2 linked regions of the Homo sapiens genome follow. The protein of the gene in region 1 purifies or fractionates together with the protein of each later gene. This does not show direct contact. Each region holds a gene or a part of one and is shown in the gene's direction. Other genes may lie near its edges.

Region 1 (5,479 bases):
GTCCTTGCGATAGTTTGCTGAGAATGATGGTTTCCAGCTTCATCCATGTCTCTACAAAGGACATGAACTCATCCTTTTTTATGGCTGCATAGTATTCCATGGTGTATATGTGGGTGGCTGGCAAATTTCTATTTCTTGACCTTGGATGTTTACAAGGGTGTTCATCTTATGAAAATAATAATAATATAGTAAACTATTCATGTATGTAGTTTTATCTGGGTGTTATTTTACAAGAAAAAGATCTTTAAGATGCTTTTGCAAAATGAAGAATGTGTGTGAAGCAAATCTAATTCATCTCCTAAAATCTCTTTTCGTGGTAAATCCATATTTAGATGGTAATTTGTTTAGACCAAGCATATGCATGTTCTGGCAATGTGTTTTCAAGACCATTCATTGCAAAGTAATCGATCTGCAAATGTTGATGGAGTACTAACTATGTGCAAGGCACTTCTGCTGTTCCATAGCAATTGGCTCGTACCTTCAGACACTTGCTCTCTCTCTTGAATTAGCTGACAATGTGCATTGGAAGCTTTCACTTTGGGTTTGAGCTTTTTATATTATTGGTATTTTATTTGTTTATGATGTTTTATGAATTGATTGAAGTACTGTGTGTTGAAGAGGAGAGGCTCGCAAGACACTTCCACTCAGCATAAAACTAAACGACCTCTTCCCTTAGTCTTAGCTAGCTGGCATGTAGGCCACTCCCCAGTGATCAGGGTGCTGCTTCCTGCGAGTGTAGACAGCTGGAACTCTGCTTGTTGAGAATCTGCTCTATACTGGGCTATGCTTTGGTGACTCATCATCACAGCCTCACAATCACACCATACATCTGAATATCTAGTTCCTAGAAATGACAGTTTTGGAGAGGTTTATAATGGATACCAATTCCCACAAAAAAAAGTAGTTTTTGAGACTTTCTTCCGACCCAAGATCACAAACATCAGGAAGCAACTTACTCCGTTCCATCAGATAAAGCTAGTTTCTAAATAGAAAACTTACTAGGCATATCAATTTTTGTGTTTTTTCTGCAAAGCAAAGGAACCATGAAAGTTGCAAAACTACAAAAATTTTTATGAACAAAAACGCTTCTATTTCAATTGAAAGAAAGAAAGAGAAAGAAAAAGAAAGAAAGAAAGAAAGAAAGAAAGAAAGAAAGAAAGAAAAAGAAAAGAAAAGAAAGGAAGAAAGAAAGAAGGAACGAAGGAAAGGAAGGAAGGAGGGAAGGAAGGAAGGAGAGAAAGAGGAGGAGGAGAAGAAAGGAAGGAAGGAAGGAAGGAAGGAAGGGAGGAAGGAAGGAAAACAAACAAAACAAAGAAAAAGAAAGGAAGGAATGAAGACGTCAGCCAGAGGTCGTTCTGAGCAAATTATTTGCGTTCATTTTTGTAATTCTTACCACAACCCAAATACAGGTGATCCCTGTTTTACAGATAGCAGAACTGTGTAGCAGAAAGGTTAAATAACATGCCAAAAGTCACATAACTAGTAAGTAGCAGTGCTAGGGCTCAAATCATGTGGTCTGGTTCCATAGCCTGTGCTATTAGCTATAGGTTACTACACTGCCAAAAGTTCTAAATATCTTGGCAAGCCTCATAAATGTTAGCATAGGGAAGATAGTAGTCTATATTTAAACACTACCTTGTACGTCAAATTTGCATTTTAGATAGCTCCCTCTGGCAGAAAGCACAGCCTATCAATGATCAAATAGCATCCACTCCATCTCAATAATTCTTGAAACTGTCAGCTACTCTCCATCCCCGTTGCCACAGCCTTGGTTCAAGCCACTATCATTTCTCAGCTAGACGATTGCAATGATGCCCTAACTGGCCTTTCTCCCTTTGGCCCTAACTGAAGATGAAGATGAGAGGCTAAAACAGAAATATGAAAGGATGCCGAGCTAGCCAAAGCATGTACATATATTAATATCAACCCAAACAACTTCTAGGGGAAAGGGCTGGAGAGAGATGGGAAGCAGTTGCAAACCCAACTTTTTACAAATCTAGAGAAAGTCAAAAGCAGAGCCAGTATGAAGACATTAAATAAAACCACACATTTTCATAAAGTACAAGCTGCCTTAATCTGCCCTTAGAGACTGTAGGCCATGGAAATAGCTATAGACAATGGTTGTCAGCTCTCCTCCGTCTCCTCCGGCCTCCCTGGAGATTGGGTCTCCTGATCAGAGAAGCTTGACTGGCTACACTCGCCCTTTCTCCTGTGCTGGCCTTGCTGAGATGTGCCCTGGGCAGGGTATTGGGCAGGAAGGAGACTCCTCACATGATCCAGTTTAATCCTCCTCTTCTCCCTTCCTGAAGCTGCACGCTGCAGTAAGAGCACAGCAGAAATGCAGACAAAAGGGGGCCAAACATGGGCGAGAAGGGCTCTGTTGCTCGGCATCCTGTGGGCCACTGCACATCTGCCTCTCTCAGGGACCTCCCTGCCCCAACGTCTCCCAAGGGCCACAGGTAGGTGGACATTGGGGTCAGTTAGCTCTGCAGCAGCAGCTGCTGCTGCTGCTACCACATACAGATGAAGGGACAAAAAGAGGAAAATTCTCAATGGGCTCACTTTTACTTACGCTTCTGAATTTTAGCATTTAAAAAGATATCAAACACTTTTGATCCTTCAAATAAGTTCTTAAATATACTCCAAAGTAATTCACAGAGATCATAGTAGGCCAAGTCTCCAGTTTTTGTTCTTGGAGACTTTTTGGTGAAAACAAAAAATCTTTCATCTTAGAAATTCTCTCTGCAACAGTGGATGGATTCTTTGCAGGCCTGTGAACAATTTAGGCTCTGCAATGAGAAAACGAAATTGTATAAACAATAGAAATCTTCATGTATCAGAGATACAGTTTCTACTTGGGGAAGAGAGATTCAGAAATAAAAACAAGGAGGAGTGATTTCATGATTTCCTCTTTTTAATTCTTCACCATCATCAACATATTTCATTAAGATATCTCTTTTCAGTCCCCCAAAAAAATTTTTTGAAAACTCTACAACTGTGTTATATTCAGAAGCGCTTTATACATTTTCAGTGGGTCCTTAAAATTCCACCCGGTTACCCCACACTTACAGATTTCTTAAGGAAGCTCTCTGTGGGCTTGGAATGTGTGACTCCAAACTCTTCAAACTTTCACCTCCTTTTCCTTAACAGGAAATAGCACCCAATGTGTTATTTCTCCATCATCGGAGTTTCCCGAAGGGTTTTTCACGAGACAGGAGCGCAGAGATGGAGGCATCATAATCTATTTCCTAATTATCGTTTACATGTTCATGGCCATATCTATTGTCTGTGATGAATACTTCCTACCCTCCCTGGAAATCATCAGTGAATGTAAGTGGCTGGAAAGTTGCCCTGTAACCTTCTGGGAGAGTGTGCCACACAGATATGACTGTCTTTGAAATAGCTCAGCAGCTGTCCTGTACTTCTCAACTGGTTGCAGAGCACCAGCTTCTTGTTGTGGGGTCCCGTGTCTTAAGGAACTGGTCGAGTGTGGTTTCTCTTGGTAGTTAATGTGAATCAGAGTTTCTTCAAGTTAGAACCCGGCAGTTATTATTTTTCTGCCTATTTCCAGAAATCTCTAGTTTGTCTACTGCCTGGATGTTTGTTATAAGAACTGTTCCAAGATTTCACTTGTATGTACTTTGTGTGCGCTCCTAATACAATGAAACTCCTAATATTTGCCATTTTATGCTTCAAAAAACTTTTTTTTATTTTTACTCTAAGCTCGCTATAACTTTGATTATAAAAAGTGATAAACAAATGCAATTAAGGACCACCCTCCCCATCTTCCTTTCCCAGCATCCTACCATTAAGGAAATTAATTGATATTTAAGAACCAATAAACAGATAGATGAATAAGTCCTGTATCCTAAGTGACCTTAGACATCAGATGACTGTAAAATCAGTTATTAAAAATTAAGAGCTCCATTTATTGGTTTCTGAAAATAAGATCAGCCGGTCCAAGCCTCTGAGCTCTGTTCCTTCAGCAGTATATGTTGCCCAGAATTCTGAGCATAGACCTTCACTGGTGCACTGGTCCCTAAACACCAGGATAGCAGTTATGTTCTGTGCCATATGAGCAAAAGTGTGTTTCTAGACTTGGTCTCATGTTTGGTTATTTATTTGGCTGAGCATGCCCACATTACAGCAAAAAGCAATGTCAAAATTAAGGATTGGGTTTCCTATTGCATATTCACAAGACTGCACAGTAACAGCAGCGTCCTCAACCTCCACCCACCGCCCCCGACACACACACATTGCTGCCATTTCTTTATAAAGGGAAAGAGCATGAATGTAAACTCTCCCTTTTCCCATCACCCCACCCCCAACCCCTGCTGAAATGCAAAGCGAATTATTTCCTCCCTTGTTCACTGCAGTATACCAGAATCTGTAGGCTCTAAAACAGTAACTGGTGATAGCAGAGGCACTCAACACCTATCTGTTTAATGAAAATATATAATATATATATATATGATAGATTAGCCTAATTTATTACAATTTTTCTTAAGTAGATACAAACATATGCTTTTATCTTGACGTTACATCTTATATATAATTGATATTTTCTTTAATAAAGATTAAATTATTTAACAGTTTTACTTAGATTAATGAAATACAAGAAAAATAGAAGAGAAAGATAAAATCACCTGTATTTCCATCTACACAGTTACCATTTGGTATATTTCCTTTAAATCTTTTGAATCTTGCTTTATATACAGTTTGGGATCTTTCCTTTTTTTCACACAATATTTTATAGTGCACATTTTCCAATATTATTAAACATTCTTCAAAAACATTATTTTTAATGATATCATGATAGTCCATGATTCTATAAATGATTTGAGCGTCTGACACTGGTTTTTACACATAGTAGGCACCCAGTAGAAATTTATCATAAAATTTAAAACTATTACTCTCATTGGACATTTGGCCTGTTTTAAGTTTTTTGTGTTAATGTCATGCCCATAATTGTATAAAATCTTTGCACACCTCTCTGATCATTTCCTGATTAAGAGGCAGAGATGTGGATATTTTAAGTCTTATGATATATATTTGCAAAAGGCATCCCACAAAAGGTGTGCCTACTTATACCTCCTTAAGCATCCATTCCAGAAAACCATGAAAAATATGTGAAATATCCTTGGTTGCTTTAACCTCCCATTATTTTATAAAATTTGTGTTTATCTTATTATCCATGAGGGTGAATATTTTATATGTTTATTTTATTTTATGGTTTTCCTTTTGTGTTTTTTTGCCCATATTATATCAGGGGTATTCTGTCTCTTTCTTATTGATTTTCAAGACTTTAAAAATATATAAGGATATTAACCCTTTTTCTAGTATTACTTCATATCATATGCTTTTTCATGGTTTGTTTGATTTTGCATTTTGTGTTTATCACATTGAAGTTTGAAGTTTAAATATTTTAAGTAAATTTGTAAATCTTTTTCTTTATGGTTCTCCTTTTGGTTTTATAACT
Region 2 (4,952 bases), on another chromosome or scaffold:
CTACAGGCGCCCGCCACCACGCCCAGCTAAATTTTTGTATTTTTAGTAGAGATAGGGTTTCACCGTGTTAGCCAGGATGGTCTTGATCTCCTGACCTTGTGATCCGCTCGCCTCGGCCTCCCAAAGTGCTGGGATTACAGGCTTGATCCACCGCGCCCAGCCTCTAGTTAACTTTTTTCTTAAAATATCTTCAAATTATATTTCATGGGACAATGATGTTTTTCTGGTGGAATAAATTTCTATTAATATTTTAGTGTGGAAACCAGTAAGGTGTAATTTACAATCAGTTATCCTTTTACAATAATTTGTAAAATGTAAACTTCTTAATAGTTTTTTAATCCATTACTTTTTCTTTTAAGGCTTTGAACTAACAATTGATCACCCACATACTCATGTAGTAAAGTGCACTCAACTTGTTCGAGGTAAGGAATCCCAGCTTATGAAGACTATCTCAAGCTGTTTTCCCATTTAGAGGTTGTGGTTTGTGGTGGACAATACATAATAGTTCTGCTTTGGCTAAATTTAAAGGCCTACTTGGCTTAAATCAAAATGAGTTGTTCTGACTTGATGTTTTTCTGTTGGGTTCTTACAAGTAATATTTTTAGATGATCTCTAGTTAAAGAGAACTAACCTCTTGAGAATGTTTGTCAAAGTTGGGCAGTTTGTGAAGTTATTTAACAGAAATTTTATGAAAGTTGTGAGGAGTGGGTGATCTTATTTTAATTCTGGGGTTGATTAAAGGCCACCTAGAGGATCATACAGAATTTATTTGGACTTTCCATGATATACAATCCCTTGGCAGAACTTTTCTTTTTAATTCTAATTTAACAATATTAGGTATAATTGAATGAAACTCTCTTATTTAGTTTAGTATCAAGAATATCTGAACACTATTGTGCCTTTAAGTGCCTTTTATGATTTTTAGGCCAAACTGATAATTGGTCTTATTTTACATTTTACTAATATGTGTTTCCTGTGAAAATTCCCAAATTTTCCTGAGTTCTTTATATTTGAAAGTATTAAAATGTTATATTGCACAAGGATAAGACTAGAGATGGGTGTATGTTAATATTGAGAAGACTATGTCCTGAGGAAGATAAAAATTTGCTTTGTCACCCAGAACAGTTTGTTTTGGAAGAAGTTAAATTTTTTCATTGTAATATATTACATTATTTGATGATTTGGGGATTAATTAATTAAATCTTAATTAGGGCTACTTAATTAAAAACTTTTTTTTTTTTTTGAGACGGAGTTTTGCTCTTGTTGCCCAGGGTGGAGTGCAGTAGCACGATCTCAGCTCACCACAACCTCCGCCTCCCGGGTTCAAGCGATTCTCCTGCCTCAGTCTTCCGAGTAGCTGGGATTACAGGCATGCGCCACCACCCCAGCTAATTTTTTATTTTTAGTAGAGACGGGGTTTCTCCATGTTGGTCAGGCTGGTCTTGAACTCTGGACCTCAGGTGATCCGCCCACCTCGGCGTCCCAAAGTGCTGGGATTACAGGCGTGAGCCACCGTGCCCAGCCTTAATTAAAAACTTTCTTAACAGCAAAAGTCACTTTTCCCAAATATGTCAAAGTCTTCTAGATTCTGATCTTGCTTCTAGATCATCTTAGTTCATCCTGTAGTTTAGTGATTCTCAGTGAATCCTTACATCAGAATCTCTGGGTTACTTGTTAAAAAATGCTTGCACCCTTCTCCAAACATTTAATTAAATTTTAGGGAGCAGGTCCAAGAATTGCATTTAAACAAGTACCTCAGATATGTGGTGTGCAGAATAAAGCTTGAGTACCTAGATCTGGAAGCAGCATAGTTATTAATGTTAAAATTAAAAATCATTGATCTGTCTACTTTGGCAGAATGTAAACGTCAGGTTTACAGGGACCATGTGTGTCTCATTTGCCACTATATTCACAGTACCTTGCAAATATTAAATGCTTACTAAATATTTGTTGAGAATGAATGGAACTAATAACTTTTTTCCTCCCCCACCCCTGACTTTTTTTTTTTTTCTTTAGCAAGCAAGGACTTAGCACAGACTTCTTACTTCATGGCAACCAACAGGTTTATATTTTAATTTTTTTTTCTCTTCGATTTTTGGTATAGGACTTTACTTGAGTTTGATACAGTGTGCTATAGATAATTCTCTGGTGAATGTTGATTTTTCTGCACAGTTTTCATGTTGTACTTTAAATTTCCATGGTACTTTTTAATTTTCTAAGGTTATGTAATTATTTAGTACTGATTTTTTTGATAACCTACTCAGTTCTGCATGATAGTGACTGAAAATCTAATTTGGAGTATTCTGCAATAATTATATGTGTATATATATATATATATATATATTTTTTTTTTTTTTTTTAAATTATTATTATTATTTTTTGAGACAGAGTCTTGCTCTGTTGCCCAGGCTGGAGTGCAGTGGCACAATATCAGCTCACTGCAAGCTCCACCTTCCAGGTTTACACCATTCTCCTGCCTCAGCCTCCCGAGTAGCTAGGACTACAGGTACCCGCCACCACGCCCAGCTAATTTTTGTGTTTTTAGTAGAGATGGGGTTTTACCTTGTTAACCAGGATGGTCTCGATCTCCTGACCTCGTGATCTGCCCACCTCAGCCTCCCAAAGTGCTGGGATTACAGGCATATATATATATATATATATATATTTTTTTTTTTTTAAGACAGAGTCTCACTCTGTCTACCAGGCTGGACTGAAGTGGTGCGATCTTGGCTCACTGCAACCTCTGCCTCCCGGGTTCAAGTGATTCTCCGGCCTCAGCCTCTTCACTAAGCTGGGATTATAGACTGGCGCCACCATGCCCCGCTAATTTTTTTGTATTTTCAGTAGAGATGGGGTTTCGCTATGTTGACTAGGCTGGTCTCAAACTCCTGGCCTCAAGTGATCCGCCTGCCTTGGCTTCCCAAAGTGCTGGGATTACAGGTGTAAACCACTGTGCCTGGCCAATAATTATATTTTAAAATATTCCTTTTTCTTCCCCCTCTATCAATCAATGGGCACTTATGGATGTTAAGAGTTTCAGTCTTTTTCCTTCTTCCCTTTTTAAAAAAAGTAAATGAGACTGGGCACAGTGGCTCATACCTGTAATCCCAGGCTGAGGCTGGTGGATCACTTGAGGCTAGGAGTTCGAGACCAACCTGGCCAACATGGTGAAACCACATCTTTACTAAAAAATACGAAAATTGGCAGGGCAAGGTGGCACATGCATGTAGTACCAGCTACTCGGGAGGCTGAGGCACGAGAATTGCTTGAACCCAGGAGGCAGAGGGTGCTGTGAGCCGAGATTGCCCCACTGCACTGCAGCCTGGGTGACAGAGAGAGAGACTCTGTCTAAAAAAAGTAAATGATTAGTACATAACTTGTATTACCAAATGACTTGCCCAACATTGTTAGTTAATGGAAACCAATGATATCCCTAGTAACTGTCAGGGCTAAGAAGTTCATTTTTATAGCCTGTTACGAAAAAGTTTTGAAATAAACCAACATATTTATACTTGAGAGAGTAGTTGTCTGTTTATTATTTTAAATAGACCAGAACTATGATTGGTGAGAGACAAATTATTTTTAAGATATTTCCTTAAGTTTTTGATTTACGGATTACACAGACCAAAAAGCTTACAATTTTCCTTAGGATCTGAGCTTAGTCTCAGGATAATAGGTAATAAATATTGACTTCTAGGCTTGAATACTGGCCCAGAAGTCAATGTTTTAAAGAACTTGAATTCCCAGCCTTTTTCCTTTTTTCCTTTTTTTTTTTTTTGGCTCTGGTCAATGTGTAGATTAAGTGATGTGTAATTCAAGAGTTTTTAAAATGTTGTTACCTGAACAGGTGGGTTAATAGGAAATTATATTGAGTGCTAGATCAGAGCATTGCATATTTCTTACCCTTCTTACTCTCCTGTCTATTTTTAAGCCTTTTTTTTTTTTTTTTTTTTTTTTTTTAAATAATGGAGAGTTTTAGCTTTGGGCTGAGAATTGAGAGCTCATGACACTCTCTGTTTTCTTCCCTCTGATGTCAGCCTGCATTTGACCACATTTAGCCTGCAGTACACACCTCCTGTGGTGGCCTGTGTCTGCATTCACCTGGCTTGCAAGTGGTCCAATTGGGAGATCCCAGTCTCAACTGACGGGAAGCACTGGTGGGAGTATGTTGACGCCACTGTGACCTTGGAACTTTTAGATGGTAAGTTTTAGAGTAAGGGACCTTGAAAAGCACTTGCTGTTGATCTGTCACATAGCTGGCCAAAGGTGACTTGATTCAGATGAAAATAGTTAGTTAGTAGTTCAGGTTATTCTTGTTTCATTACTTCTGTTTCTCTCAGTCTTTCTTGAATGTTCTGTTTTACTTGTAGAACTGACACATGAGTTTCTACAGATTTTGGAGAAAACTCCCAACAGGCTCAAACGCATTTGGAATTGGAGGGTAAGAATCATTACTGTCAGCTTGTGGAACAAAATCAATTTCTTTTGACTGCACCAGTGAATATACCAGTATTGAATATGTACCCTAGGTTTGGAATTGCCCTTTTTATAGTTACACAGTAATCATGACTTCTACTTCATACCTTGGATACTGTTGTAAAAGTCAGTGTCTCTATGGGATAGCAGGATTTGCTTTTCATTGTGTAACTCCTGTGATATGATCATTTGAGCAGTAACACTGGTTCAGTATTTTCTGTGTGGAAACTGGTAGGGAAAAAACATGGCTTCTCGGAGTTAGAGTATTGGCTTCTGGTAGAGGCAAGATAGAGAATTACAAGGTTAGAGCCGGTATCACAGTTTTGTGTTTGACATTACCTACTTTTAAAATGGATTTTAGAATTTTGTTTTTATATAGGCTGTAGTCTGAAGTTGTATTTCAAATACTTGTCAAAGCCTTATTCAGGAATAATGGAATCATTCCTTTTTTTTCTGTCAGATATAAAACTTGTTTT

What was found. Proteins that work in one complex are often made in the same cells at the same time.
Region 2: the proteins of SLC24A5 (region 1) and CCNT1 purify together in Homo sapiens (affinity purification with mass spectrometry; one large-scale study listed by BioGRID and IntAct). This does not show direct contact.

Annotation. Positions count from the first base shown.
Region 1 is NC_000015.10:48,118,707-48,124,185, forward strand, and holds the start of SLC24A5 (sodium/potassium/calcium exchanger 5 precursor), read left to right. Parts: upstream 1-2,283; 5' UTR 2,284-2,338; coding exon 2,339-2,459; intron 2,460-3,150; coding exon 3,151-3,330; intron 3,331-5,479. UniProt on the Homo sapiens protein: Calcium, potassium:sodium antiporter that transports 1 Ca(2+) and 1 K(+) to the melanosome in exchange for 4 cytoplasmic Na(+). Involved in pigmentation, possibly by participating in ion transport in melanosomes.
Region 2 is NC_000012.12:48,695,248-48,700,199, reverse strand, and holds part of CCNT1 (cyclin-T1), read left to right. Parts: intron 1-359; coding exon 360-422; intron 423-2,016; coding exon 2,017-2,062; intron 2,063-3,961; exon of another isoform or gene 3,962-4,037; coding exon 4,038-4,201; intron 4,202-4,370; coding exon 4,371-4,441; intron 4,442-4,952. UniProt on the Homo sapiens protein: Regulatory subunit of the cyclin-dependent kinase pair (CDK9/cyclin-T1) complex, also called positive transcription elongation factor B (P-TEFb), which facilitates the transition from abortive to productive elongation by phosphorylating the CTD (C-terminal domain) of the large subunit of RNA polymerase II (RNA Pol II).